Regions from separate parts of the Homo sapiens genome. Here region 2 is linked to region 1. Evidence: fine-mapped expression QTL. A gene starts in region 1. The other region holds a variant in brackets. All regions are shown on one strand. Distances are between the middles of the regions.

Evidence for each region. PIP is the estimated chance that this variant, and not a neighbour inherited with it, causes the effect. A credible set is the group of variants that fine-mapping cannot tell apart.
Region 2: its variant is the best candidate, but not a certain one, in a credible set for the expression of TBCEL in whole blood (INTERVAL, PIP 0.79).

The regions. Positions count from the first base shown.
Region 1 is chr11:121,016,027-121,032,425 of GRCh38, forward strand. It overlaps TBCEL (tubulin folding cofactor E like), which reads left to right and starts at 8,076. Exons shown (of 9, transcript NM_001363644.2): 1 at 8,076-8,265. TBCEL-TECTA (TBCEL-TECTA readthrough) reads left to right here and starts at 8,076. Exons shown (of 30, transcript NM_001378761.1): 1 at 8,076-8,265. RefSeq lists silencers at 7,890-8,039, 8,060-8,329.
Region 2 is chr11:121,067,919-121,084,317 of GRCh38, forward strand. All of the region lies in intron 7 of TBCEL-TECTA (TBCEL-TECTA readthrough), which reads left to right. All of the region lies in intron 8 of TBCEL (tubulin folding cofactor E like), which reads left to right. Among named protein-coding and RNA genes, the nearest start is that of TECTA, 25 kb to the right of the region's middle. The variant A/G (reference allele first, on the strand shown) is at 9,072.

The DNA.
Region 1 (16,399 bases):
GGCGTTCTAACTGATGGGTTTAAAGCAAGTTGGCAAGAGTTCCATGGGGTCACACTGTGACTGAGAGGGGCTACTGTGGCATATCTGCGCAGTCCTTGGGGGTTAAGGGGATCAGAGGGGTGAGTGAAGTAGGTTGTATCTAACCATTCCATAGGGAGGTGGTTGTATAAGGCAGATAACTGGATACACTGCATTAAGGAACTGTAAGGAAGTGGACAACTGGAAAGTGTGTCAAAGGTGACTATGTCCTGCTTCTGATATCTGGTATGAGAAAGCTAAATTTATATTTAAATGGATGTTGAAGTAACATAAAATTATAGGAATTAACTATATTTCTAACTAATTCATGAGCCAAAGAAGAAATCACAAGTGAAAATATTTTGAACTAAATGAAAATGAAAATACAACGTCCAAATTTGTAGGGTGTAGCAAAAGTAGTGCCTAGAGAAAAATTTAGAAACTTGAATGCATATATTAGAAAGTAAGAAACATATAAAATCAATAATCTAAGCTTTCATATTAGGGAACTAGAAAAATAAGGGCAAGTTAAATCCAAACTAAAGAAATAAATAAAAATTAGAGCAGAAATCAATGAAATCTGAAACAAATCGGTAGAGATAAATCAATAAACTCAAAAGATGGTTCTTTGAAAAGATTAATAAAATCAATAAGCCTCTAGCCAGGCTAAGACAAAAAGAGAGAAGACACAAATTACTAATATCAGAAATGAAAGAGAAACATCACTACAGATCCCAAAGACATGAAAAGGATAGTAAATGAATATTATGAACAACTCTGTGCCCATAAATTTGATAAGCTAGAAAAAAATGGAACGATTTCTTGAAAGACACAATCAACCAAAGCTCATACAAGAAGAAGACAATCTGCATAGGCCTATATCTCTTAAACAAATTAAATCAATAATTAATATCCTTCTAAAACATAAAGCACCTAAGCCAGCATGGGTCCATTGATGAATTCCACCAAATGTTTAAGGAAGAAATTACACCAATTATCTATAATCTTTTAAGACAATAGAAACAGGTGAGTACTTTCTACCTCATTTTATGAGGCCAGCATTACCCTAATACCAAAACAACACAAGGACATTACAAGAAAAGAAAACCATAGAGCAATATCTCTCATGAACATATATGCAAAAGTCATCAACAAAATATTAGAAAATCAAATCCAACAATGTACAGAAAGAATTATATACTACACCAAATGGGATATATTTCAGGTTTGCAAGCCTGATTCAATACTAAAAACTCAATTAATGTTATCCATCACATCAATGAATTAAAAAAAATCAGAAAATGTTTAAAGTGGAATGATAATGAAAATGTACATATCAAAACTGTGACTCACAACTAATGCTGTACTTAGAGATGTACCGCTTTAAAGACTTTTTAGAAAATAAGAAAATTAGAAAAATAACAGTAAATGAAACCAAATAATAGCAGATATGGTAATATGGTAGTTAGTAATCACCTTTGGTTCTGGAACATTTGAAATGTGGCTAGACTAAATTGCTCTAAGTGTAGATTATACATGGAATTTTGAGAATTTAATATGAAAACAATAACAAAATATCTAAATAACATTTTGGATATACTGGGTTAATAAAATACATGATTAATATTAATTTAACTTTAAAAAATATTTTTAATGTGGCCACTAGAAAAAGTTAAACTACATATCTGACTTGACTTGTACTATATTTCTTTTGGACAACGCTGATCTAAAGCTAGGATTTACCAATTTTACTCTTGGGTATATTCCCAACAGAAATGTTTATATGTGCCCTAAATGACAAGCACAAGAATGTTCATAGCAGTGTTATGCATAATAACCAAAACCTGGAGACAACACAAATGTCCAGTGGTGGAATGGATAAATAAATAGAGTGTTACTATAATATAAGATACATGTAGCAACAAAAGTGAATAAACTATAGCTACATGGACCAAAATAGATGACTCTCATAATATTAAGTGAAAGAAATCATCTCGTTTGATTTCATTTATTTAAAAATGGGGAAAAATAAGCTACACTATTAGAAGTCAGAATAGCAGTTAATTAACTTGGGGAGAATTGTGAGTGTAGGTACTGGGGGAAGTCTTTGGGAAATTGGCAATGTTCTATGACTTAAATGGGAGGTTGTTACATGCTTACCTGTGAGAACTCATTGAGCTGTGCATTTATGTACACTATGTGCACTTTTCTGTATGTTATTCTTCACAATAAAAAAATTATGAGAGGTTAGTGAGACTTCTAGCAATTTGTTGCAAGTGATTTTAATTAATGTAAGGTCTTCTTGAAAATTAAGCTTTTTGTGGCTGGTCTATTGCAAATTGCAAAAAAACAAATTAAGAGTTGTTTTTTAAAGACCATATTCTGCCCAGTAAGGAAATACTGATTCTTTCTAAATAATTCTAGGTATGACTCCCCAGTTTAAAATTTTAAAAATCTTTGTCCTTTGCTTGGTCACTAGGCTTGGCATGACAGTACAGCTCCTGACAAATATGTCAATAATGTTGACAAAAATAAAATATAGAATCTGAGAATTGCAAAATTTAAAGGGGTCATCCATTCTACATTTTTTTGACTTAGAATTTGTGTGTGTGTGTGTGTGTGTGTGCATGCATCTGATGAAATCTGGGACACTTCCTTTTAAAAATGCATACATGTGTAATATACACAATATATATAATTTCAGGTGGTTTGCCATGATAGTTTATCCAATCTCTGTTATTTGGTAGATAATGCTCCAGGCAGAAACAGTCTAAGAGGCAGAGCTGGTTAGTGGAAAAACCAGGAATGGTATTAAAGACACAGTCACCAAACCAGCCATTATTCTTTCAAGTGAAGCAGCTGCTTTTCCCTTCCCCTGTGTTCCCATCTGTGCACTGCTGTTGTTCACATTAAATTCTCATATAATTATGTCCTTATCCTCTTGTCTACTTGGGAAGAGCCTTCAGCTGTGAAGATAATTCCCTTATCTCCTTTTAAAAAATAACATCCCGTAAGTTGCCATGTATCACTGTTACCATTCCAATTACATTGTAGAGACCATGCCTTATTTGTCTTTGTTTTCCCCAAACCACCTAGCTAAGTACAAGGAACAAAACTCTTACAAAATAAGCAATTGTTAAATTAAAATGACATGCAAATAAATATCTGGCTGAAACTTCATGACAGAACTATATCTCATAATACAGGGTCATTGTGAACTAAAATGCTGATTTCAGACTGACCTAATGTGAATATGGACTCTGCCTTTTACTAGTTGTATGTTGCTGGGTGTATGACAACCTCAGTCTTAGTTGGTAAATCTGATAGCATTAAGCATACTTCATAAGATCATTGTGAAGACTGAGGGAAAAACAGTAATCTACATAAAATGTCTCAAGCAGCGTCTGGCATAGTAAAACCTTAGAAAGTAGCTATGATTTTTGTTATGGCATATTCGACTCTGAATTAAAGATCCAGTAGGAGAAACATAGACTGAGAATCTTAGAAGACTTCGAATCTTCTGATCCAGGAATTGTTCACATATTGTTTTAACAGATTCTGCCTTTGCTCAACCTATTCCAATGGCAGAGAATTAACTAGAACTGACTAAAGCAGCTCCAATTCTCCCGAAGTTCTTCCTTATTATTAGGTTGCACTGTATGAAATTGCCCTTTGTAAGTCAAAGTGATCGAATTATGAATATTTTTTTGGCTGGGCTTGGTGACTCATGCCTGTAATCCCAGCACTTTGGAAGGTCAAGGTGGAAGGATCGCTTGAGGCCAGGAGCTCAAGACCAGCCTGGGCAACATGGTGACATCCCATCTCTAGAAAGAAAAAAAAAGTTAGGGAGGCATGGTGGCACAAACCTGTAGTCACAGCTACTTGGGAGACTTGAGAAGCAGGGATCACTTTAGCCCAGGAGTTTGAGACTGCAGTGAGCTATGATTGTGCCAGTGCACTCCAGCCTGGGCGACAGAGAGAGCCCCTGTCTAAAATGATAATTAATAATAATAATATCTAATAAAATGGCCACAAATCTGCCTGTTATTTTCTCTCAGTTTAGTTCAACGTCCATTCTCTCCTTTTCCTATATGATAGCCCTTTAGAAATAATGCGGAATCAATAGTGAACATGATAGACCTACTCCTGCCTTCATTGAGGCTTACATGCTCGCCAAAGAAACAACAAGGAAATAAGCTATTATGTATAATTTTCTGTCTCAAGGAAGTGAAAGAAGAACATTTGAAGTAAATGGCTTTGTGGAGGGAATTCCTATAGAATATATCATACAGGAAGGTTTGTGAGTATAGAGCAGTGCAGTTCAATAGAACTTTCTGTGATGATGAAAATATTCTGTATCTGCCCGGTCCAATATGATAGCCACTAGCCACATATGGTGATTGAGCACTTGAAATGTAACTAGTGTCAAGTGACTGAGGAAATGAAACTCGAATTTAACTTAATTTTAATTAATTTCAATTTAAATAGCCACATGTGGCTAGTGGCGACCAGATTGAACAGAGCAGATACAGAAGAGCAAATAGCAGTGATAAATGAGGCTGGAAAAGTCAGCAGGGTCCAGATCTGGAAAAATTTTGAGAAGTACATTAATAATAATAGACGTTATCTTGAGACCCACAGAGAATCCTGAAAGGGTTTTAAGTTCCAGAGAATAACACAATCACATATGTGTTTTTGTTTGTTTGTTTGTTTGTTTTTTTGATACAGAGTCTCGCTCTGTCACCCAGGCTGGAGTGCAGTGGCACAACCTCGGCTCACTGCAACCTCCGCCTCCTGGGTTCAAGCGATTCTCCTGCCTCAGCCTCCCGAGTAGCTGGGATTACAGGCTTGCACCACCACACCCAGCTAATTTTTGCATTTTTAGTAGAGACGGGCTTTCACCATATTGTCCAGGCTGGTCTCAAACTCCTGACCTCTTGATCCATCTGCCTTAGCCTCCCAAAGTGCTGAGATTACAGATGTAAGTTTTAGAAAGATAATTCTGGCTGTCTTGGGGAGAAAGATGGGAGGTGGGTAGAGACATTGATCTTGTCTTTAGAAGTTTCATCTATAAGGGGAAAGATGGGAAAAGAAGCAGAAAAATGACTGGAGGATATCTCAGAGATACAAAGAAGTGTATAATCGACCACACCCAGCCACATACAATACTCATATATGTATTTATATACGTTGCACATAGTATTTGTTAACAGTAATGACCCATATTTCTTGCTTTTTTCCTAGTTGCTCACAGGGCAACTAGCCTCTTAAGCGTTTCTGGGTGTCCCCAAAGGTACCTGAGCTCAGAAGTAAGTCTGTCAACAGAGTATCCATGCAGCATCCACCTTGTACATTTTACTCCGCTCTTCTCATGGTCCTCACCACTGAGGCTACTTTTGACTGTGGCCATGCTGAGAGGTGACAGCGTGCTGGCAGTGGTGACAGCGTGCTGGCAGTCCTCACAGCCCTCGCTCGCTCTTGGCGCCTCCTCTGCCTGGGCTCCCACTTTGGCGGCACTTGAGGAGCCCTTCAGCCCACCGCTGCACTGTGGGAGCCCCTTTCTGGGCTGGCCAAGGCCGGAGCCGGCTCCCTCAGCTTGCAGGGAGGTGTGGAGGGAGAGGCGCGAGCTGGAACTGGGGCTGCACGCGGCGCTTGCGGGCCAGCTGGAGTTCCGGGTGGGCGTGGGCTTGGCGGGCCGCGCACTCGGAGCAGCCGGCCGACCCTGCCGGCCCCTGGCAATGAGGGGCTTAGCACCCGGGCCAGCGGCTGCAGAGGGTGTACTGGGTCCCCCGGCAGTGCCAGCCCACCGGCGCTGCGCTCGAGTTCTCACCGGGCCTTAGCTGCCTTCCCGCGGGGCAGGGCTCGGGACCTGCAGCCCGCCGTGCCTGAGCCTCCCACCCCCTCCATGGGCTCCCGTGCGACCCGAGCCTCCCCGATGAGCGCCGCCCCCTGCTCCACGGCGCCCAGTCACTTCCACCACCCAAGGGCTGAGGAGTGCGGGCGCACGGCGCGGGACTGGCAGGCAGCTCCACCTGCAGCCCCGGTGCGGGATCCACTGGGTGAAGCCAGTTGGGCTCTTGAGTCTGGTAGGGACGTGTACAACTTTTATGTCTAGCTCAGGGATTGTAAATACACCAATCGGCACTCTGTATCTAGCTCAAGGTTTGCAAACACACCAATCAGCACCCTGTGTCTAGCTCAGGATTTGTGAATGCACCAATGGACACTCTGTATCTAGCTACTCTGGTGGGGACTTGGAGAACCTTTGTGTGGACACTCTGTATCTAGCTAATCTGGTGGGGAGGTGGAGAACCTTTTGTCTAGCTCAGGGATTGTAAATGCACCAATCAGCGCCCTGTCAAAACAGACCACTCGGCTCTACCAATCAGCAGGATGCGGGTGGGGCCAGATAAGAGAATAAAAGCAGGCTGCCCGAGCCAGCAGTGGCAACCCGCTCGGGTCCCTTTCCACACTGTGGAAGCTTTGTTCTTTTGCTCTTTTCAATAAATCTTAGTACTGCTCACTCTTTGGGTCCACACTGCTTTTATGAGCTGTAACACTCACCGCGAAGGTCTGCAGCTTCACTCCGGAGCCAGCGAGACCACTAACCCACCAGAAGGAAGAAACTCCGGACGCATCCGAACATCAGAAGGAAGAAACTCCAGACGCGCCACCTTAAGAGCTGTAGCATTCACCGCGAGGGTCCGCGGCTTCATTCTTGAAGTCAGTGAGACCAAGAACCCACCAATTCCGGACACAATGCTAATGATCTCAGTGCTCTGAAAGCCAGTAATTCTTAAATTGCCAAGAAAGGCACTCTGTTCTCTGTGGAAGGGGGAGTAAAGCCCCTTCCTGAGCAACCTAAGATACAATTCTTGGCTAATCATCCCCTTTATACTCAGAGCAGTTTCTTTACCCATGACCTTCTGGCTTTTTTTTTTCCTCTCTACCCTGTCTAACCCTACCTATGGGATATGAGAAAACAAAACAGAATGACAAAAATAAGTCTCCAGGAACTGATGATGGTAAGGTGCTATTGGGTCTGTCCTAAATAATTTTGTTTCCCCCTTCTAGAAACCAATGCAGACATGCACATGCACATTACATCCCCCACGTCTTTTCTGGCACACACCACACAGAAGCACATACACTTTATGCACAAAGACATCTTCATCTCCTAGCACTTCAGGGGACATTCCCATACAAGGCTGAATTCACTTGGGGTTGAGCCAGCACCACGCCTATTCCATGTATGTTTCTGCAAAAGAAATGGACGAAGGAGTACATAAGCAATCACAGCTCAACAGTCAGATATAGTAATACTATGCATGGAGTTGGAGCAATAGCGTGGCATAAAGTGAAGTGCATGGACCCTGGTGCCAGCCTGACCTGGATTCAAATCTCACCCTGGTCACATTTACTAACTGGGTGGTCTTGGGCAGATCACTTAAGCACTCTGAACTTGTTTTCAATTCTATAAATACCATCTCTTTGGAGGGCTGTAAAAATTAAAAATAGCACATGCGCAGTGCCTGTACCTAGAAAGTGCTCAATAAATGAAAGCTGCTGTTACTACATTGGTGTTGGAAGCTCGGGATGCCACTTGTGAAGGGGGCACAGAAGAAAGGTCAGACTGCCACCATACCCTGAGGGCTCATCTAGTATAGTTCCCTCATTTTATGGTTGAGGACACTGAAGCCAGAGATAGGAAGAGACTTGGTCAAGGTCACACAGCAAATCAGTAACAGAGCCAGGCCAAGATTCCAAGTGTTTCTGGAAAGGTTCAGCCCAATGCTCTTTTCTGCAGCCCCTATTGTCCTCTGATATGACAATGTGTACTCCTGTTCTGCCCCTGGGGATTGTCCACTCAATGGGTGGGCACGAGAAAGAGCAGATGAGGTGTTTGTGGTAAAGCCTAAGCCAGTGCAGCCATCCCCGTCGCCATGGCAACCCCAGCGCGGTTGGGGAGGACCCGCTCCTCCGGCGCCCCCTCCCATTCACGCAGCGGACGTGACACGTGCGGCGGGGTCACGTGTTGTTGTTGGGCCGGGAAAGCTGCTTCCGGGTCAATGCAGGACACTGGGCTCCGGCGGCCAGAGTGGGGGACTAGGTGAAGCGGCGCCGGGCCGGGGCTGGCCGGGACCAGGCCCGAGGCTGAGCGGCGGCGACAGCGGTGGCCGGGAGGGGGGAGGAGAGGCGCAGCCAGAGGAGCCGCCGCAGTAGCTCCCCCGCCTCCCGGGCTGAGGGGTGAGTGGAGCCGGGCCCGCTGGCTCTGCCGGGCTCTCGAGGCCCGAGGCGTTCCCCTCTGGAGCCGAGGCGCGGAGGGTCGCTCCTGCAGGGTGCTGGGATAGGACACTCGGGGAAGGGTGAAAGCCACATGGGGCCTGTCTCGAGCAGCTGTGGGGATGGGAGACCTGCCCTGGGGCTAGAGGGAGGATGGGGCCTGCCTGGCCTGGGCTATGGCGGAGCTGGGAGGGTCTTGGGCTGGGCTGGGCTGGGCTGGGCTGGGGGACTGGTCCCGGGTTGGAGGAGGGCGTGTTGGGGAGCCTGCCCGGGTTCCTGGGAGAATCTAGGCGTCTCACCTTGCCCCAGCGTGGGGGATGGGTAGATGCCTCCCAGCTGTTAGAAGAGGGAGACGTGTCTGGGACTGCTGGGGAAATAGGAAACTTGTCTCTGAACTACTGAATCCCAGAAAAGAGGACATGTCCCCAGGGAGGTTTGCTGGGGGAAGGACGGGCATGTCTAGGCCCTTGGGACATTAGGCCTGCTCTTACCAGGGGCTGATAAAAGGATGTGGATGTGGTAATTGAATAAGGGCTTTTGGGAGAAAAGATTTGCCCCAAGGTTGGGAGACTGAGAACGAGGGTGTTGGACTGACAGGCGGGTGCCTTGTCGTGGGATCTTGGGGGAAGTAAGGATCTGTGTGGAGCTTCTCTGTTGAGTTCTAGGTCCGCTAGTAGGAAGACATTCTGGGAATTGGTGAAGAGAGGAGATTTAATAGTCTTTTCTTGGGACACAGTGATTCCAGAAGTTGTAGTTGAGGAAAGTTGGTTGGAAGTGTTGAACTGTATACAGTCAGTGGAGAAAGGAGGAGCTCTACTGTGAAGGTTGCTAGGCTACAAAGAGCTTGTAGGCAACGCCTAGGGCTGTTGAGAGAAGTTGGTAATGCTTTCAAGTCCAAATACAGGCTGAGCTGGGGCTTGTCCCTTGTTCATGTCATGCTGCTGTGGAGCTCTTACGTTTCCAGTAGTCTATCTTGAGCAAAGAGTATGAATAGGTGCTGAGGACTAAGGAAAACATTCACTCTTTGGGTCCTGAGATGCATTAGACCCAGATCTCTAGGGTGGTAGCTTTCAAACTTAAAAAAAAAAAAATTATGCCCCACAGTAATAAGTATGTCTTACATTCAGATCTAGTACATACGTAGGTATGAAGGGAAACTTTCACAAAGCAGTATTTACCCTTATTATATGTGATATGTTCTGCTAATTTCTATTATATTCCACCCTCTTGCATTAAAAAAAATGCTGGCTGACATTTACTAAATTGATGATTTGTGGGTCACAACTTGCAGTTTGAAAAACACTGTTTCTGAAGCACATTTATTTGGTGTCAATCAGTGTCCTCATTCTGTAAGCTTCTAAAGAGCAGGGATGATTCTAAGGAGATGGATTTTTTTTTTTTTTATTTTATTTTGGCCGGGGGAGAGGGAGGAGGGCAGCTAGGTGCAATTGATTGCTTCGGTTTAGATGTTTATACCACGTAGCATATTTGACCTGTGTTTTCTGAAGGACCATAATCTTGATCTTTAATATCTTGATGTTGCCTGATCATTTGATTGATGAAATTTTTTGTATGCGTGTGTGTTTTAGTTTCCTTTATCCTTTGCTGTGTCTGAGAAATATGAGAGGCCTAGTTCCACTTAGTTGCTTTATCACAACATAGTTAAAGAAATTTTATTTTACTGTTCCAATGTTGTGAAGATACACTGATTTTCTTTTCTGCTATTTAAAAACATCCCAAATTCTTCTTACTGCAGTAATTATTATGATATACTTTTTGCTACATGATGAAAAATATATGAAAAATACACGATAAAATATATACCAAAGCCATAGACATATTTAAAAGCCTTACAGTCTACGGCTTTGGTATATAAACTTAATCATAAACCTAAGTATAACTTTCAATCAGTTAACATCTTAATTCCCCTTACAAAAATTTTAGGTGGGGTCCTTAGAAAAATAGTATTAATTCATAATAAACATTAATGACTGTTGGTGAACAAAGTGAGAGTCCTTCATGTAATGTTAAATGTTGTAATGTTAAAGTCCTTTGAAAAGTTGTTACATAGCCTATTGCTGCAGGACATTGAGTGTCAAAGGATGTTGTCTAATTTCAGTAGGTACACAGGGTATGTATTTAAGACCAGTTTAATAGCGTTTCTTTTTTTGAGGATGAGTTCGTATTATTTGTAACATAGAATTCAAAGACACGGTCATCAGGACAGAAGTACCCAAGTTAAAACTTCATCAGTGGGGCCACATTCTTGATCAAATGCTTTACGAAAACATTCTATCATCTTTGAACTTTGTGTGTTATAAATCTTTCTTGCCTTTAATTATTTATTAGGTACTGATAGAGGCGTTATGCTGGCATATATCAGCCATCCTTTAAAAATGACCTCTTAATCAGGGAAATATTTGTTTTAAAATATTTAGCTTTAATGAATGTTTAAAGAAGATTTTGTTTTGTAGGTGCCTGGAACATTAAGGAAGATTCTTATTTATTTCATTTTTCTGGGAATCATATGTACTTGTCAATAAACAGTTACGGAGAAGTGACCCTGAGTGATTGTGTGTGCTTTTTAATAGTTTTTGTTTCTTCTCTGATCCTTAGACTCTTAAGCCTGTCCACCTGTAGCAGGCTCTTTTCTCCTTCTAATTTTTGCCTCCAAACTACTATGGTTTTGAAAATCAGATATTTATATTTGTTATATAATACTTTTTTTTCCTTTTCTTAGTGTGTGAACTGTGTGACATGTATGTTGGCTACTTAGAGACCAGTTTACTTAGTCCTGGGCTGTGTTTTAAATAAGTGAACTCTTTATATATTTTGGGCCTGGTTAGCTGTATAAGAAGTAATGTGAAACTGATAGTGATACAATTTGGGCTTAAAGGGTGAAGGAATCCTTATTTGCGATTGTTGCCTTTCTCCTACACGTGATTAGTTATTGAGATTTACTATTCCTCCCTTTTTCATGCTACCCATTCTGACTTACTTCTTTGGAATTAGAATGGTAATAACTGGACTGTTCCCATTGTCTTTTGCTTGCATAGCTTCATGAGAGAACTCTTCCAAAGGATATTGCTATGATTATTTCATTTCCCTCCTCAAAAACCATTAGCTGCTTTCCAGTACAGGCACTGAATAAAGCCCATGGTGTTTAGCTTGATATTTAGGGCCTTCTACAGACTTCCTCTACTTTTTTTCTGGCATCATCATTACACTCCTAAATGCAGTTCCTCTACCTGCCAAGGCCTCTGCTCATGTACCTTCCTTTGTGTGTAAAATTATCCCTGAAAGTCTGCATATAAAATGTTCCCTTTCTTCATGAAATCCTACTCACTCTCATTTCATTTCAGATGACCCCTCTTCTTTGAAGTCTTTGTTGCTTATGTTGTCTGTACTGCCTTTGCTATATTGCTTTGTATTATTTGTGCACCTTATTTTTATCCCTTTTAGATTATAAATGCGTGGTGAACAGGAGGCTCAAATATCCATGAAAAACTAGGACATCTAGCACAGGGTCTACCAGGGCGTAGTTCATAGACCAAGTAGATCAGAATTGACTGAACGTATGGTTAAAAATGCAGATCCGGCAAGGCATTGTGGCTCACACCTGTAATCCCAGCACTTTGGGAGGCCGAGGTAGGAGGATCGCTTGAATCCAGGAGTCAAAGCCAACCTGGGCAACGTAGGGAGACCCATCTCTATGAAAAATTAAAAAATTAGCCAGGCATAGTGGTATATGCCTGTAGTCCCAGCTACTTGAGAGGCTGAGGCCAGAGGATCACGAGCCTCAGAGGTTGAGGCTTCAGTGAGCTATGATTACACCATTGCACTCCAGCCTGGGCAAGAAGAGTGAGGCACTGTTTAAAAAAATAAATAAATAAATAAAATAAAATAAAATAAAGCAGATCCCTGAATTCTGACCTAGACTTACTGAATCAGAATCTCTGGTGGAATCTAGGAATCTGCATTTTATCAAGCTGTCTGGATGATTCTTCCATACAGTAAAAGTTAAAAGTCACTGACCTAGCCTGATGCTTTAAATTACAGTAGGTACTCAAATAACTTTTCAGCAAGTGATGTTAATGAACTGAGCAATATCATAATTCAGCAAACTGGTTTAATTTTAGGGCCTTGAAGTCAGCCTAGATTTGAGTCCTGGCTCTGTCACTAGCTCTGGGCCCGTAACCTCTCTGCTTCAGTTTTCTGATCTGCAAAATGGGATAATAGTACCCCTTATAAAAGTGTTGTGATAACTAAGTGAGATAATACATATAAAACAACACAGTACACAACACATAATAAACTTACAATAGATTTTATCTGCTGTCATGATGATGCCTAGCACAACAGTGGTCACCGCAGTAATAATAAAACATCATGAAGAGAGGTTCCAGATCAGTCATTGTTAACAAACAAATTGCTCATATGGTTTTAAGAACTAAGGCTTAAAATATTTTCTATTTTACATTAACAGATTGTGGCCCTATGTGGTGTTTAAAGTCATAAAGGTGTTTCCGCCTTCTTTAGAAGAATTGGTATCAAATTAGCATGTTAGGATTTTTCCCCTTCATCTCCCCACTGATGGAAGAATAAAGTGCAAACTTTTGAATGGTGGACCTTAGCCCCTTACCATCTGGCCCTACCAATTCTTTATTTTCTAGCCGTCTTCCCACATATACTCTATACTCTACACCAACTACACTACATTTCTCACTTTATTTTGCATTTCTCACTCATTTGTGTTTGTGCAGATGCTTTCCCCTTCTTTTCATCTAGTACATTTCTGCTGCTGTCTTGTAAAACTCAGTTTTACATGTGACTGACCTCCTTAGTGAAGACAGTCACTCCCTCAGTGTTCTCAAAGTCCTTTGTCCATGCTTCTTATATATTACCTTTGTGTACATTTGTCTTTTTGGAGGGAAAAACGATTTAATCCTGGCATGTATTCCCACCTCTGCCAAAAGGGGAGGATGTTTGTTTATTTGACTCATATCAGCTCCTCCATTTGTCTGGACGTCTCAGCTTTCACAATAATAACTAGTTTATTGACCACTTACTTCATGCCAGGTACTTAACTAGATGCTTCAAAAACTTTATTTCATGTAGTCTTCACAATAACTGTGAAATGGCTATTAATAGCTTCATTTTACAAGTGAGGAAGCAGGCATAGAGATAGGTAAGTAACTTGTTCAAATTACACAGTAGTCATAAGTGAACTCAGAACTAACTGAAGACCATGCTTTTAATCACAGTGCTCTTCTAAAAATGAAATTTAAACAGGTAGCCCATTTCCCAAATTCAGGATCTTAAAACTGTGTGAAACTTTGATTAATCACTAATCATTCTTAGGAATGTGATCCATAACAAGTACTATTGTGAAAAGTTATTTAAAACTGTTCTTGGAATAATGCGTTTCCGGTGATTTTCAAAATTTTTCTTCTCATTCTGCCATTGGTGAGCTTCATTTTCATTTCACTGTCAGAAGGTGTTGCTTCATGTCTATTGATAATGAAATTCACTTTTCCATTTATCCAATGAATATTTTTTAATCATATGCCAGGCACTGCTCTGCACAAAACTGAACTGGACTGACAAATCCCTGCTTGTGTGGGACCTATCTTCTGCTGGAGAACAAACACTGAACTAACGGATTATGATAAGTGCTATAAAGAATGACAGAGGGTGAAGTGACTATGAGTGATGGTGGCAGTAGTGCTATTTTTGATGGGGTGGTCAGAAGCAGCCTCTTTGAGAGGGTGACATTTGTGTTTAAATTTGAGACTTAAACACTGAGATGAAGCAGCTCTGCCAAGAGACAGGAAAAGGGCAATCCTGCAAATGCAAAGGCTGTAGGGGGAAATCAGCTTGGCAAGTCTGAGAAATAGAAAACCACGGAGGCTGAGTAGTGGGCCAGGAAAGGAGTGGGAGGAAATGAGGTTAGAGATGTAAGCAGTGATCAGATTAAATGAATCCTTGGCGACCATGATGAAGAGATTGGATTTTATTCTGCATGTGAAGGGGAGCCATTGGAGAGTGTAAAGGACATGATTTGACTTAAATTTTGAAAAGATCACTTGGCTGCTTTGTGGAGAATGATTTGTATAAGAGTCAAGAGGGACCAGGGCGGAGGCTAATGCAGAGGTCCTGGTGAGAAGTTGATGATGGCTTGAACAAGAATAAAGTAATAGAGATGGACAAAATTGGGCAAAATTGGGATATTTTGGATGTGGTATTGATAGGTCTTGCTGATTAGTTACACAGGGGTATGAGAAGAAGAGAAAAGTCAAATATAACTTCCAAGATGGGAATGAGTGGAAGAGGAGCAGATTTGGAGAGGGAATTCAGAGTTCTGTTTTTGCCTTCCTGATCATACTATCCACTAAGGATACCACTATTCTGAATTTTGTGTTTTTTTCTCTGCCTTTTCTTTACAGTTTTTGCCATATATGTACGCAACCTTAAATGATAAGATGGCTAATTTCCATGTTTTAAAATTTTGTATAAATGGAATTATACTGTATATATTCTTGTGATTTTTTTTTTTTTTTACCCATTCAGCATTGTTTTATTTTTCTGCCCTGTGTGAACAAATCAACACTGTTTTTCAAAAGCCATTCATGTTGATGAGGAAGTAGGCATAATGAACTACCAATTGTTAATTTCCATTGCTGTGTAACATTTTATTTTATGAATATATTGTAATTTACCCAATTGCCTGTTCTTAGATATAAGGGCTTCTCCACACTGCATTCCCCCCCACCGCAATCCTCCCAGGATTTTTGCAGTTTTAAGCAATGCTGTTGTTACGGACATTCTTTTACTTATTTCCTGGTGCACACTACAAGTTCCTGTAGAGTTTATACTGAGAAGTGGAATTGCTAGATCATAGAGTATGTGCGTCTTCAACTTTACTAGACAGTAATAAATTATTTTCCAAGGTGTTTGTACCAGTTGATACTCCCACTGGCTACATTGCCAGTTTCTGTTCTTCTGCATTTTCTCCAACACTTGGTATTGTCAGAGTTTTTAAGTTTTGCTGATTTGCATAAAATGGTATCTCATTGAGATTTTAATTTTTGTCTCTGAAAATTATTGAACGTGAGCATCTTTTACATATGTTAAACATTTTAATTTTATCTTTTAGTAAGTACTTGTTTATGTCTTTTGTCCATTTTCCTATTAGGTTGTCTTCCTCCTTCTTACTGTTTTTAAGAGTTCTCTGTATTAGTTACACGTGTTGCAAGTATCTTTTTTCCAGTTTTTGGCTTGTCTTTTCATGTTTTTAATGTCTTTTGATGATTGAAAGTATTTCTTTTTTCTTTCTTTTTTTTTTTTTTTTTTTTTGAGACGGGGTCTTGCTCTGTTGCCAGGCTCGAGTGCAGTGGTATGATCTCTGCTCACTGCAACCTTCACCTCCTGGGCCCAAGTGATCCTCCCACCTCAACCTCCCAAGTATCTGGGACTACAGGCACATGCCACCATGCCCGACTGATTTTTTTGTGGAGATGGGGTCTTGCTATGTTGCCCAGGCTGGTCCTGAACTCCTGGGCTCAAGCGATCCTTCTGCCTTGGCCTCCCAAAGTCCTGGAATTACAGATGTAAGCCACCATGACTGGCCAAGTTTTCATTTGGCTGCTTAACTTTATTTTTATGGATTTTAAAAATGTTTTCTTTATGAAATATTTCCCTAAATCAAGATCATAAAGTTCTTTTCCTATTAGAAGAAATAACTTATTTTTTTCTCAAGGAGATAAAGTTTGCTTTCATATTTTATGTGGAGGTGAATTTTTTGGTAAGGATTCAATTTCATCTTTTCCCAGATTGTTATTCACTGTCCTAGCACCAATTATTGAATAGCTTAATGTTTTTCTAGTGATCTCTGTGCTGCTTCCCTGCCATATTTACATGGGCATGTTTCTGGGCTCTGTTCTCTGTTTCATTGGTCTATTTTTCTTCCCCAGGGTTGTTTAACAGAATACAGTTGATTCTTGTTATTTACAGTACTTTTATGTGAAGTTGCCATGAACAGTGAATTAATGAATATGGAAATTGTTACTCCTAGGGGAAATATAGGATTAGGTTCCTG
Region 2 (16,399 bases), 52 kb after region 1:
GTGTCTACTCTCAAGAAGCTAAGCTAGAGATATATTTCCTTTGCTGGGCCCTCTTCATGTTCCCAACCTCTAAAACTTGAGTTACCCCAGGACTTAGTCCTTGGACCTCTTCTCTTCTGTACTCATCCCCCACACACTTTTAGCCAGTCCCGAGGCTTTCAGTGCTTTCTGTATTCTGATAACTGCCAGATGTATACATGCAGCTGTGATCTGCCTCTAAATTCCAGACGGCGCTTTCCAGCTGCCTGCTTGATGCCTCTGCCTGGATGTTTAAACCTAGTGTGTCCAAAACTCAACTTTCGATACCCTCCCTTTTCCCTTACCCTGCCTCCCTCACCCCTAGCCCCCTGTGCCATAGCTACTGCTCTGCCAGTTTTTCTCCTTTTTTCAATTATTCCAGTTGCTCAGGGAAAAAACACTGGAGTCATTCTTGATTTTTTTTCTCCCACACCCCACATCTGGTCTGTTTTTTTTTTCTTTCAGTTCTACTTTCAAAACCTATGTATAGAATCTGACTACTGCTTCCTATCATTTTAGTCCAAATCCTTCATCATATCTTACTTGTGTTATTGTAGTAGCCTACTGACCAGTCTCCCTGAGTCCACCCTTGCTCCCTTAAGGCCCGTGCATCTCATAGCAGCCTGTTTCTAAGAACTCAAGTTGATTTTTAAAAAAACAACAGAGGCTGGGCGCAGTGGCTCATGCCTGTAATCCCACCACTTAGGGAGGCCAAGGTGTGCAGATCATCTGAGGTCGGGAGTTCAAGACCAGCTTGACCAACATGGAGAGACCCTGTCTCTACTAAAAATACAAAAAAAATTACTTAGGCATGGTAGTGCATACCTGTAATCCCAGCTACTCTGGAGGCTGAGGGAGGAGAATCACTTGAACCCGAGAGGCGGAGGTTGCGGTGAGCTGAGATCACACCACTGCACTGCAGCCTGGGTGACAGAGCAAGGCTCCGTCTCAAAAAAAAAAAAAAAACAGACAAAAAACAGAAACTGTCCTTACTGTTCCTGACACACTTCAAGCACACTCCCTCCTCAGGCCTTTGCACTTTGTTCCCTGTTGAGAATGCACCAGGCTACCTGCTTCATTCTCTCCCTCGCTGACACCTTATCCGAGATTCCTTCTCTCCTCACCCAGTCTAAAATAGCACACCTCTGTCTCCTATAATTCTCTTAACCTCCTTTTGTTAATATTTTTCTTGTCACTTATCAACACCTGAGTTACATTTCTTGTATATTGTCAATCTCCCCCCATGGTACTGTAAGCTCTATAGGAGTAGGGACTGTTTCTGTTTTGTACCTTGCCATCTCCCCAGTGCCTAGAGCGGTGCCTGGCAGTATAGCAACTGTTCAGTAAGATGATTGAATATTCGCTTTATACTCTGAGAACACTAAGGAGGACTTAGGTCTGCTGGAAGAGGGTACTTTCCTGGAAAATGATTGAGTTAATCTGGTGACGATGAGGGAAGAATATTCTAGACAGATGTGAGTACATGGGAAGTAAAGGTACAGAGGTATGAAATGTCTTTATGTGCAGTGAACTACAACAATTTGATATGACTAGTGAAAAGTAGTAAGTGGGAGCTGGGCACAGTGGCTCACTCCTGTAATCCCAGCACTTTGGGAGGCCGAGGTGGGTGGATCACTTGAAGTTAGGAGTTCGAGACCTGCCTGGCCAACATGGTGAAACCCCATTTCTACTAAAAATACAAAAAATTAGTCAGGCGTGGTGGTGCATGCCTGTAGTCTCAGCTACTGGAGAGACTGAGGCAGGATAATCACTTGAACCTGGGAGGCAGAGGTTGTAGTGAGCCAAGATTGTGCCGCTGCACTCCAGCCTGGGCGACAAAGCTAGACTGTCTGAAAAAAAAAAAGTAGTTAATAACTGGGAAGTAATGATACATATTATGCTGGGGAGGAAGGTAGGAAACAGGGCAGTCCGTGAAAGACTTTGGTATGCTGTGCTCGGACAGTAGGGCTTATTCTTATAGACAGTGGGAAACCATTGAAAGGTTTCAAGTTGGGAAGTTAAGTGGAGAGATTTTGGTTTGTATATAGAAGAAGAAGCTGAACAAATTTACAAGAAAAAATCAACCCCATCAAAAAGTGGGCAAAAGATATGAACAGACACTTCTCAAAAGAAGACATTTATGCAGCCAAAAGACACATGAAAAAATGCTCATCATCACTGGCCATCAGAGAAATGCAAATCAAAACCACAATGAGATACCATCTCACACCAGTTAGAATGGCGATCATTAAAAAGTCAGGAAACAACAGGTGCTGGAGAGGATGTGGAGAAATAGGAACACTTTTCCATACTTGGTGGGAGTGTAAACTAGTTCAACCATTGTGGAAGACAGTGTGGCGATTCCTCAAGGATCTAGAACTAGAAATACCATTTGACCCAGTGATCCCATTACTGGGTATATACCCAAAGGATTATAAATCATGCTACTATAAAGACACATGCACATGTATGTTTATTGTGGCACTGTTCACGATAGCAAAGACTTGGAACCAATCCAAATGTCCATCAGTGATAGACTGGATTAAGAAAATGTGGCACATATACACCATGGAATACTATGCAGCCATAAAAAAGGATGAGTTCATGTCCTTTGTAGGGACTTGGATGAAGCTGGAAACCATCATTCTTAGCAAACTATCGCAAGGACAGAAAACCAAACAGCGCATGTTCTCACTCATAAGTGGGAATTGAACAATCAGAACACTTGGACACAGGGCAGGGAACATCACACACGGGGGCCTGTTGTGGGATTCGGGGAGGGGGGAGGGATAGCATTAGGAGAAATACCTAATATAAATGACAAGTTAATGGGTGCAGCACACCAACATGGCACATGTTTGCACGTTGTGCACATGTACCCTAGACCTTAAAGTATTTAAAAAAAAAAAAAAGGCAGCAGCTGAGAGAGACCCAGAGACTTAAAAACTGAGACTAGTAAAGGAGGATATGTGTGGTGGAGATTGCTTATGTCTTTTTAGAGAGATTATGTGTATTAAGACTGAATTTCACTCTAGAATTTGAACTGGTCCTCAGAAAACACATCGTGAAGTTGTACTTGTTGTCTGGTATTTATAGCCCTGATTTCTCTGAGGGTATAGAAATATCATTTAGAGAGAAAGAAACCTCCATGTTTGTGGGTCTGGCACATAGTCAAGTGTACATGTTTATTATTTTTGCCTTGCCCTTGATCAGATGTCTATCCACATTGCTTGTATTTTTCAGTGTTCCCTTCATTTTGTGTTTACTTTCTCTCTCCATTTCCTCTGATAGATTGAATCTAAATTGCTTCTTTAGTGCTTACCTAATACACAGTCATCCTCTTTAATTTTAAAGAGAAAAAAAATGCAACTTTTAGAAGTCAGCATATCATGTATCTTTGGGAACTCAATGATTTCTTTTTGTTTTTGAGGGCAGTGGTAGGAAGTAAATGCATTGATTTAGGGTGCCTTTTCAGACTTTAAAATTTTGCTTATCATAAGGAGGAGTCTTAAAATAGCTCCAGTGAACAATTATTTGATGGAAAGAGGAAGTACCATTGTCAGAGACGGTGGCAATGCCAGAAACAGGTTTTCTTAGAGGCTTTTCTTTGCCTTTTCTTTTCTTTGGTACCTTATTTTCTGTTTGTCCCAAGTAATCCCTAAACTATGTCCTGGGAAATCCTTTATGATGGCAAGGATTACATTAGGAATTCCTCAAATGCTGATTTGATTGTCATTAGTGGTATGCTTTTTAAAATATGGAGAGTATGTTTTTCCCTGCTTAAGACTAATGGCTTTTCTAAATAGAGCTGATTGTATCTCCATGTTATTGTGAGAGCAGGCAGCAGCCTGTATTTGGACACCACCTCAATGAAGGCTTATTTTGTCTTGGATGCTGGAGAAATCTTAGTGTGCTGTGTCCGTTACCTCATATTCCTTCCAGACAGAGGACCTGCTGTTGTGAAGGAACATTTCTATACTGGACATGAGTCTCCTGGGGTTCTCCATATTGCCATGCTCCATCATCCTCTGACAAGGGCCGTGACACAGCACTCCTAGCACTCCTCACATTCAGCCGTGAGTCTGAGGAGAAACAAAAGGGGCATTCTCCTTCGTGCACCATGGAGAGCCTCTGAAATGTTAGCTTTCCCTGTTGCTTACAGCCTTTGTCATTCCAGTTACCTTGGACTTTATTTTGACTTCTTGCCACTTTCCCAGCCCAGCAGAAGGCAAACTACCTTCCTAATCTTGATTGGAGTCATATACAAGTATTTGGATATACTTGGAAAGGAAAGAGAGAGTGAGAGCCAGTCCTCCCAAATCATGGGCTTGGAGGAAATTTTCTTTGCTGTCTGAACTTTTGTTTTGGCCAGGGCAAGGGGCCAGTTTTATCTTTTTCGTTTTTGTTTGCTTTTTGTCAGTAAAACAATACTAAAAAATATTGAGAGTAATAAAACATTCTTGTTCACACTGTTCAGAACTGATGATAGTTAATATTTTATTCTACTTTATTTTTCATTAAAAAGAAATAATATTATACATAAAATTGGAATAGCTTTTTTCTACTACTCTCAGTCCTATTTCTTACTCCAAGAAGTAACCACCAGCAGAAATTTGATTTGTATGCTTGATGTCTATTTTTCATATTTTATATCTCCATTAAAACATAAAGTAGCATTTTATAATTCTTTATTAGTATGAATTGCTCTGTCTTCCCTCATATTGTGGCTTTTCAACCTGGTCTTTTCACCTCGTATTTTGTTGAAAAAAACTTTAAAATTTTAATGTCTGATTTGTCTATCCTTAACTCTGTGGTTTATTCTTATTGCATCTTTTTAAAGAAACCTGTTTTCCCCCAAAGTTCACGTAAGTTCCTAATTTTTTTCTAAAGGTGTTTTTATATTTATGACTTAAATCTACCTGGAATTACTTTTTATGTATAGTTTCAAATAGAGATCTGGCCCCATATGGATAATTGGTATTTATCACTGATCTGCAATGCCACATCTGTCATATGTCTTATTTTTTGTATGTATGCTTCTGTTTCAGGACCCTGTTCTATTCCATTGGTGTATTTGTCCATCCCTTGTACTATTACAACATTGGTAAATTACTTTATATTAAGTCTTAATTCCCAATAACAGTAAGTTTCCCTACCTTGTTGTTGCTTTTCAGATTGTATTAATTATTGTAGGCCCTTTTCTCTTCTATATGAATTTTAGGATCAGCTTATAAGTTCTATAAAAATCCTGTTGTAATTTGGATTTTGATTACATTGAATTTTATTTACTTACTTGAAGAGAATTTACATTGTGATGCTATTGTATATTCCTATCTGTGAACATAGAATGTTTTTTTCATTTAACTCAGAATATTTTTTATTTCCTTCAGTAATGTTTTCTAATTTTCTTGCAAAGGCCTTTGCATTTTTGTTAAGTTTCTTTTTAGGTATCTTAAACATTTTGTTGCTATTTGAAGTGAAATCATTTTTTCTGTTATCATTTCTAATTGATTATTGTTGCTCTATAGAAATGTCTTTTTTTTATGCTGATCCTGTGTCTGTCAGTCTTACATATAGAGTAGTTAATCTTCATTTTCTTTTGGATTTCTATTTAGACAGTCATATCTATACATAATTTTTATACCTCTTTTTTTTCTTGGATATGACCTCCAGTATAATATTTAAAATGCGCAGTAAAAGAGGTCATCTTTATCTTTCTCCTCACTTGACAGGGAATGCATCTAAAGTTTCAATATGTAGATATGAATGCTGACTTTTGCTATAGGGTTCTGATAGGTTCAGGTGGTTTCTATCTCTATTTTTCTAAGAGTTTCTTTTATTACGAGTAGACATTGAATTTTGTAGAATGTTCTTTTTGCATTGAGATGAGCATATTTTCTTCTGTAAATTTTAATATGATACATTTTCAGGTATTGAACCATTTTTGCATTCCTGGTATATTCAACTTGGTTGGGAAATATTAAATTTTCTTTTTAAACATGTAGAATTTAATTTTATAATGTTATTTGGGATGTTTCCATCTATTTTGATATGTAAAATTGGTCTGTAATTTTTTGTGGTTCTTGTCTGGTTTTATGAAGGTTGTACTAGCTTCAAAATTGAATTGAGTTCGTGATTTCATATTTTCTCTACTAAGTAACTGTTTCATTCAGATTTAAAATTTAATAGTCACTTACGATTTGGGGGTAGGTGTTTTAATTTTTGAATTGTTATATTTAATTTTCATTTGGATGGGCAATACTTCCACATGGAACCTGATTGGAAATTTTAAAAAGGATGTATACTACAAAGTAAGTCTTCTTCCCATTTGTATCCTTAGTAGCTAATCAAGTATTTGGCCCCTAGGCAGCCACTGATACTATTTTCTTGTTATAGTTTCCATCGCTATTTTGTGCGTAATTTTTGTACACAAGTGTTCACAAAACAATACATTCTGTACTCTATGTTTTCTTTTTCATTTAACCATAGATCTTCAATAGCATCTGTGTTGAGGGTCTTTGTGATTTTAAAAATGTACTATATCAATATTCATCTTTTTATTCATAATAATGTCTATTTCTGCCTTTCCATTTTTTCTTAATCAGCCCTGCTAATGACTATCTTTTAGTAGTGTCCTTTGTTTAAAGTCAGATTGATTGAAGTATGTGACATAAATTTTACCCCTTTTAGTGTACATTCCTGAATTTTGACAAACACTACAGTCATAGAACCACCAATATAATCAGAATATAGAACAGTTCCATCATCCAAAAAAATCTCATACTCCTCAACCCTTCTTCCTGACTCCTACCCTCTGGCCACCACTGATCTGTTTTCTGTCCCTGCTGTTTTGATTTTTCCAGAATGTCGGATAAATGGAATCATGTATGTAGTCTCTTTTTAATTGAAATTTTTATTGAGATAATTGTAGATTCACATGCAGTTGCAAGAAAGAATACAGCAAGATCCTGTGTACCCTTCACCTAGTTTCCCTCAATTGTAAAATTTTGCAGAACCACAGTACAGTATCACAACCAGAATCTTAATGTGGATATTGTCCAGTGATCTTACTGAGACTTCTCAAACTAAAACATACACACACACACTCACTTGTGTGAGAACTGTAACATACACACAAGGGCGTGTGTATGTTTTAAGTTCTGTGCACTTTATTGTGTGTGTCTGGAGGACCTCATTCAACATGAATTAAAGCTTACTATATAGTCACAGTAATCAAGAGATTGTGATACTGGTCACAAACATACAGATCAATGGAACAGAAAAGAAAACCAGAAATACACCAAAACAAATATACTTTCCTGATTTCTGAAAAAGGTAGAAAAGCAATGCAGTGGGGAAAAGACAGCTTTTTCAATGGACAGTGCTGAAGCAACTGGATCACTATAGGCAAAAAAAATGAACCTCAACCTAAATCTGTTGAGAAAAGCTTAGTGTTGGGAGAAGCTGAGGCATCATGTTGAATGATTCCTCACACTTTATTCTTCAAGACTGTTTTAGCTATTTTAGGGCCTTTGCCTTTCCATATAAATTTTGGGCTAATTTAGTCTCTGTCTGCAAGAAAACTTTGCTGGAGTTTTGACAGGAATTTTATTAAACTTATAGATGAGTTTGGGGAAGGTTAATATTTTTAGTATGTGAGATCTTCCAGTGCATGAATACAGTATGTCTCTCTGTCTAGACCTTCTCTGATTTCTTCCACTAGCATTTTGTAATTTTCAACGTACAAGTCCTATACATCTTTTATTAGATTTACACCTAAGTACAGTCATGTGTTGCTTAATGACAGGGATACATTCTGAGAAATGCATCATTAGGCGATTTTGTCATGTGAACATCATAAAGTGTACTTACATAAACTTAGATAGTATAGTCTACTACACACCTAGCTTATATGGTACAGTTCATTTTCCTGTGTGGGGTAGGATACGGATTAAGTGTTTTGTTTTGGCGTATGGGTGCCAGTTACTCCAGCAATATTCACTGGTAAGACTATCCTTTTTCTATTGAATTGATTTTATACCTTTGTCAGAAATAAACTAATCATATAGGTGGCCCGTATTTCTGTATTCTGTGTTTATTGACCCATGTCTGTGTCCTTTTGCCAGTACCACACCATCTTGATTACTATAGCCTTATGGTAACTGTTCAATTAAGGTAGTGTGGGTCCTCCAACTTTGATCTTTTTCAGCATGATTTAAGCTGTTCTAATTCCTTGCCTTACATATAAATATTAGGATATGCTTGTTGAAGTCTGTGAAACATTCTTCTGGGATTTTGATTAGCATTGTGTTGAATTTATAGAATAATTTGTCCAGAATTTACATCTTAATAATACTGAGTCTTCCTGTCCATGAACCCAGTATCTCTTTCCATTTATTTAAGTATTTTTTTTAAAAATGGTGTTGTGTATTTTCCACATAAGGATTCTGCACATATTTTGCTACATTTTATTTAAGGATTTCATGTATCTTGGCCCTGTTATAAGTAGTACTGTTTTAAAATTTCAAATTCAGTTGTTCACTGCTAGGCATAGAATTACAATTGGTATTTGTAATTGACTTTGTATTCTACAGCCTTGCTAAATTTATTTATTAATTCTAGTAGATTTTTAATAAATTGTAGACAGTCATATTGTCTGTTACTTAGCACAGTGTATGTCTTCTTTTCCAACCAGTATGACTTTTTACATTTTTGTTGTTTTTTGGACCTTATTACACTGACTTGGACCTCCAATATAGTATCGGAATAGGAGTAGTCATGGCAAACACCTAGCCTTTTTCCCTGTTTAGGAAAAAATCATTCATTACACCACTAAAAGTGATGTTAGCTATAGGTTTTTTTGTTCATGACCTTTATTTGATTAAGGACATTTCCTTCTATTCCAAGTTTGCTGGAGCTTTTCATGAATGGGTGCTGAATTTATTCAAATGCTTCTTCTGCATCTATTGAAAAGTCTATACCATTTTTCTTACTTGATGTATCAATATAGTGAATTATATTAATTGCACTTTTAACCAGCCTTGAATTCCCAA[A/G]ATAAATCCCACTTGGTTATGATGTAGTATCTTTTTTTATATGTTGGTGAATTTGATTTGCTAATATTTTGTTAAGGATTTTTGTGTTTATGCTTATAAAGGGATATTGGTCTGTAATTTTCTTATAATGTCTTTGTCTTATTTTGATATCAGGGTAGTGCTGGCCTCATTTATAAGTGTTCTTTCCTTTTTTTCTGGAAGAGTTTGTGTAGAACAGTGTTATTTTCTTCTAAGATATTTTGTAGAATTTATCAGTGAAGCCATCTGAGCCTGGTGTTTTCTTTGCTGGAGGTTTTAACTATGAATTAAATTTATTTAATGGACATATAGCATGATTCAAGTTATCTGTTTCTTCTTGAGTGAGCTTTAGTAGTTTGTATTTTTGAAGGAATTCATCCATTTAATTATGCTTGTTGAATTTATGGGCATAAAGTTTTTCATAGTATTTGCTTATCATAAGCCTTTAATGTCTATGTGGTCTGTGGTGATGTTCCCTCTTATAGTGCCAATATTGGCATCATCTTTTCTTAATCAGTCCAGCTAGAGGTTTATCAAATTTGCAAACCTTTTTAAAGAACCAGCTTCGGGTGTTATGAGTTTTCTCTGTTTTATTTGCTATATTTCATTGATTTCTGCTCATATCTTTATTTCTTCCTTCTTGTTGCTTTGGATTTAATTTGCTCATCTTTTTATAGTTTTTTTAAGCATAGATCATTGATTTGAGACTGTTCTTTTCTATTATAATATTTAATTCTATAAATTTTCCTTTAAGTGCTGCTTTAAATACATTCTGTAATTGGGATTTGTTATATTTTAGTTTTCATTGAATTCAGATATTTTCTAATTTATCTTGTGACTTCCTCTTTGACTCATTGGGTTATTTACAAGTATGTTGTTTATTTTCCAGATATTTTCCTTATCTTTCCAGGGATTTTCGTCATCTTTCTGTTAATTATTTCCAGTATAATTTCATTATAGTTAGAGAACGTACGTTTTACTATTTCAATTCTTTTAAAGTCTGTTGTGGTATATTTGAGGTACCTTTCTGGTTTAGAATATGGTCTTTCTTGGTCAGTATCTCATATGCAGTAGAAAAAAATGTGTATTCTGATATTGTTGGTGGGCATGTTTTATAAATACCAGGTCAAGTTGTTAATGTTATTCAGGTCTTTTATATCATTAACAGTTTTCTGTCTGCCGGTTTTATCAATTACTGAGAGGAGTATTGATTTCTCCAACAATAATTGTGAATTTGTTTATTTTTATTTGTTGTTCTACCAGTTTTTGCTTCATTATTTTTTGTGTACATATCTGTTTTTAGATACATATGCATTTTGGATTGTTACGTCTTTCTGCTGGAGCTCGTCTCTCCCTGTCTAATGGTTTTGCATTTGCCTCTAAGCAGCTCCCCTAACTCCTGGTCCAGAACCAGCTCTTATAATGGAATTTGGAGAACCTGTCCTGCAGTAATTACAGAGCTAGTGCATATTCCTAGTCTTAAGCACCAAGTGATTTAATTCAGTTCCTGGTGGTGGAGCTATCTTTTTATTCCTTTACTTATTAGAACCATTGCTCTACAAAGGTAGCCTTAGGCAGTGGATCTGCAGGAGTTTTCTTTTTTTCATCCTCATTTCATGCACAGCCTCTCATCACTCAATTCTACCCCTACTTCAAGCAGGGAACCTGTCTGTAGTTCCCCTGCCTCCCATGAAGCACATTCCATCTCCTTTGCCTTGTATGACCTGAACTCCTTACTGCTTCTGCTGCTCTAGATTTCTAGCCTGGAGGTCTTGTAGTTTTAGTTCTATGATTTGTATTTCTGTTCAGTTTCTGGTCCATGGAGATGCTTATCATTTTTGAGACTGGCTATATCTTCTTAGATTTCAGCCTTTTACATTTTATCAATTTTTACTCTATGTTTGGAGCAAAAGTGCATCATGTTGATAAATGTGGATTAAAATCATTCTTTTAACTGCTGTATAGTATTCTATCATATGAATAGATCACATTCTGTTTATCCATTACTAGATGATTTTTGATAGCACTTGAATTTAAGAAATAGTTGAAACAAATGTAGTTCCATGACTTAAGCTCTGTTGAAAAACTAAATGGAAAATACTAAATTCACTTCAAGATACTTTGCTATATGTGTGAAAGGTGACATTAAATAATTCTGGAGGTAGGTGAAATGCAGATATTTGGGGAAGACAAGTGGGAAACATCTATGGCTTCAGGTAAGTAGGAGAATGAGCTCTGTGATGGAACTCATAAAAAGAAAAGAGAGCCCAGGAGTGAATTTTTAGGACTCCCCAAGTGTAGGTGATAATAAGAGAAATGAGAACCCTTGAAGAGAGATTGAATGGGGACATTTGAAATGTAGGAATGAGAAAATAATTTCTAGAACAGTATTTATTATTGCAGCAAACCACTAAGATGATGAAACTAAAACAGTGATAGATAGTCTCAGAATAAAACCTGAGTTGTAATCTCCACCCTTCCTTTCACTAGCTATGAGGCTTTGGGTTAACAAACTGGGTCTCAATTTTTACATCTGTAAATTATGTAATAGATGGTTTCTAAGATTCCTCCTACCTATAAAATGTGATGCTTATGTGTTTTAATAAGTGGAATGTTGGTGACCTTGAGAAATCCTTGAGTAGGTTGTCAAGTCCCAGTTGTAGAATGTTTCTTTGATGTCCCAGGATATGATGCCACATCAAAAGTGAGAAAGCATACTATAGCAAGAGACATTAGAAAACAGCAGTCAGAAGATGTTTTGAATGTACTTTTGAATCCCTCCCAATGCCTTGGGAAACAAACTCGATAAATGTTTTGTTTTTTTTGAAACGGAGTCTCACTCTGTCACCCAGGCTGGAGTGCAGTGGTGCAATCTCGGCTCACTGCAACCTCCACCTCCCCGGTTCAAGCAATTCTCCTGCCTTAGCTTCCTGAGTAGGTGGGATTACAGGCGCACACCACCACGTCTGGCTATTTTTTTTGTATTTTTACTAGAGACGGGGTTTCACCATGTTGGCCAGACTGGTCACAAACTCTTGACCTCAGGCAGTCCACCCACCTTGACCTCTGAAAGTGCTGGGATTACAGGTGTGAGCCACCATGCCTGGCCGTATTTTTCTTTTAGTTAATTAAACTTCAAGATTTGGTTTAACCAAGTGAACCATCTGGGATTTTTCATGTTTTGTTTGTTACATTTCTTAAAGAGAGAGATGTATGTATTAGGGATTTATTTGGAAGTAATATAGCATTACCTAGAGTAAAGACTTCGGTTGATTCAATGTGTGTCTGCATTTCAGGAATGATAGATTAACAGAATTGTTAACTTGAGACTACTATGTAAGCTACCCATGAATACACCTCTAGACAGTTGTAAGGGATAAATAGAGTATTTCTGGGATATTTATGATCCCATTGTTGCGTAGCCACCTGCAGAAAATGTAAATCCCCTTATTTTTCTCTAGGATACTCCTAAAGATTGTGAATTTGGAGATTTGATGTCCAAATCTGAATGCCTTCGCCATTGGAAAGTCCCTGATTCTAGACAAAGTTTCATTTTACAATTTCCTAAAAATTATGTAAAATATATACTTTGTTTTATTTAGTTAGGATCGTTTATAAGGCTAATCAAACCTGAGAAAAAATTAATGTTTGTTTTAGGTTTTATAATAAATAGAAACACAGACTAAGACATATGGCAGGAACCTGTAGTCTTTTTCAAATAGTGTACCACATCTTCCTATTCTGGAGTACATGTGACTGAATTGTGATTGAGGAAATGCCCCCAGGTCTTGGGAATCAAGAGTGAGGATTGGCAAGATGGAGAAACAGGCATACCTCTCCTAAAAATGACCACCGTGCTACTAAAATCTGCTGTTATGTAACATTAGACAGGTGTGCCATGGACCAGGACCTGAGTGTATGAAGGCTTGCTTATTTGCACTGGGAGTAGAGCTAGCCTGGTTCCACCACAGGTGGCTTCATTCTCTGTTCCCCTCTTTGTTAGTATCACCTTCAACCCCACACTGCTGGTAGCCTGATTTCTAACTGCTTATGATTCAAAGACCCCTAAGGTTGAAAGAAGCTTTTCTCTCAGTGGGTGTTTTTATTTAATAAGAAGGGGGAAAAAACACACCAGTTTGCTTGTGGGTGGTATTCTTCACAAGGTTGCAGCTAGCATTTGGTTTCCATTTATCACTCTCAGTTGCCCACGTGGTTATGCTGGCCTTTATGCTGTTTGTAGTAAATTTTTTTTTACTTGTGATTGGCCATTTTCTGTTAGAAGGTCATGGTGGAATGGACCAGAGAACTTCTGAACACAAATACGGCGTACTTTACATTTTAGCATTTGATGATTGTAATACATCCTTATCGGTAATATTTTCCAAAGTAGGTTTATAACACTTTGCACACTTCAGAAGTGGGGCTTATGAATATTAAATACTTGTTAATGGTCAGATGAAGATACTGATTGGTAGAATATAAATCAAAATCATTAATTTCAGAGAATGCTTAGTCAGCAGAAACCATCTACCTCTTCAGAGTATACTTCAGGAAGACATTGGAACTAATGCTAAGAAAAGCTCAGGCATGCAATGCATGCAGTATAGTTCAGTTTGGATGGACTTTTGCATAATGAATAAAATATATAAGCTGAAAGACTAGGAGAGAATTGCTTTCTCAAATTTACTGGATATTTTGTAAAATCATGATTTCTTATATTTACTAATCTTTCCTGCTTAAAGATAAGTGGAAAATAAGAAAATTGGGAGAAAACAGATTATCTTGAAACCATGATTTTTATTTATGTAACTTTTAAGGGAACATATATATATATGTATGTATAGTAAATCACAACTCTAGTACTCTTTCTTCTTTTGTATTTAATAGTGAATATTTCTCAGAGCCCACATCCAAAGCCTAACCCATCTATAAAAGTCTGCTGGCCTTACCTATAAATTAATAAATAAACATTGATTTTAAGATTTAAACAAGTGGAAAGGAAGGTGCAGAAAATGGTAATGGTGATGACACAAAATAAGGTTGAAAAGTTATGAAGGAACCAGATCATGGAGGGCTTTTTATGCTTATTGTATTTGTTTTCTATTGCTGCTATAACACATTACTATAAACTTAATGGCTTAAAGCAATGCCTACTTAGTATAATCACAGTCCTGTGGGACAGAAGTCTGGGCACAGTGTGACTCAGCTGGGTTCTCTGCTTAGGGTCTCACAAGGCCAAAATCAATGTGTCTGCAGGGCTGTTTTCTATATCAGAGGCTCTGGAGGAGAATCTCTTTGCAGGTACAGTCAGAATGGTGGCAGAATTCTCTTCTTTCTTATACTTTTCATGTGTGCCATCTTCAAACCAGCAATGGTGTGTCAGGTTCTGGTGCTTTGAGTCTCTCTGACTTCCTCTTTTGCTACTAGTTGGAAAAACTCTGTTTTTGAAGGCTCATATGATTAGATTAGGCCTACCCAGATATGGGAGCCAAAATTCTGCTTACCACAATCATGTTGAAGAGTTAGGACTTTATTTTGATGGGTATTACGTGATTTTAAGTAGAGGAGTGATGTGATACAATTTGTGCTTTATAACAAACCCTGTGGCTATCATAAAGACAAGGATTGTCTTGGGGCCACCCTGAGGTCGTGGAAAGCCATCAGCTATTTTAAGAAGAAAGGGATTTCATACAGTGAATAAAGTGCTTACAAAATCTGTGGAAGGGCTGGAGGAGCAGACTTAGGCCTCCTCTCTAGGATTGACTCTGGAGTAGTACCATGGAACTGGCCCACCAAGGGCACTGCGCACCTTTGTAAGGAATCAGGGAAAGGGAAAATCAGCAAGCTGCTGTCCCTGGTGCTGATCACACCACTTTAGCTGTGATCTGGAGATCAGCAAGCTGCTGCTGGGGTCCTTGACTCTAGAAACAGACTGCTTGAACTGTGTGATCTAGTCATTTGGAAGCCTCTACCCAAACTGTTTCCACACTCTATCTACTAGATCTACTGCCTCTCTCCAGGGCTGTGACTGATAGAAGCTAAATCTCATTGGCAAGAGAGTGTGGGAAATGTATTTTTCAGCTTTTCAGTCTTGGTAGTACAGGAAGGCCTACCAGGAGGAGGTTGAAACAGATATTGAGAAAGCTCATCTAGTTTATGCAGCCACAAAAAATTGTAGCAATCTAGGTTATTAATTATAGTGGCCTGAATTTGTGAGGTGGGTGAACAAGAGAAATGCAGATAGATTGATGGGATACGTAGGAAGATAATGAGTGGGAAGTGGTAATTGATTGAATGTGGTAATTGATTGAATTGATTGAATTGGAGAAGAGATAGGAGAGAAAGAAATAAGAATGACTGTTCACTTTCTGGCTAGGATAATTAGATAGTTTCCAGTGCCACTTACTGAGATACGAAAGACTAGAAGAGAACACAGCTGGGGAGTGGCAATTATTTTTGAACCTATTGATTTTGAGAAAACTGAGACTTCAGAGTGTCTGAATTTATAGGTCATTTAATTTTTAGATGTACTTGCCCATTTATGGAAGGTAGGCTAATTTCTGAATGTAGGTCATAATTTTGTGTACAAATATGTTTATGGTTGAGATTAATTCAATTGGCTATAATGTCAAGTATAAATGAGTCTAGGAGTATACAGTTGTTACTATGTTTTAGTTTTATATTTAGATTCAGGGCTTATCCCTAGTTCTTTAATCTCATTGTTGAGTATTGGGGTTTTGTTTTTGTTTTTGTTTTTTACCAGAAGGACTCATGGTGCTCTGTTTCTTATTTCTCATTTTAGAATATCTGCTTGTTAAATTTATTTCTGAAAAAAAACTTGGTGCCTTAGTTCATTTTGTGTTGCTATAACAATACCACAGACTTGGTAATTTATAAAGAAAATACATTTATTTCTCAGTTCTGCAGGCTAGAAAGTCCAATATCAGGGTGCCAGCATCTGGCTGTGGCTTTTCTACTGTATCATCCCATGATGGAAGGAGGAATGACAAGAGAGCAAGAGAGGGCTGAACTCACTTTACCAGGATAACGGGTGGACTCCCTCTATAACAGCGTTAATCTATTCATGAAGGCAGAGCCCTTGTGACCTAGTCGCCTCTAAAAGGTGCCCCCTGTCAGCACTGTTGCACTGGGTATTAAGTTTCCAGCACATGAGCTTGGTGAGGGGGAGCACATTCAAACCAAAGCACTAGGTTAGGTATAATAATTTTGGGCCATTCTTTCTGATTCATTTATTTGGGTCTGTGGTGGTGGTGGTTTGCTCCTCAGTTTGTTTCTTTAGCTCTACAGTC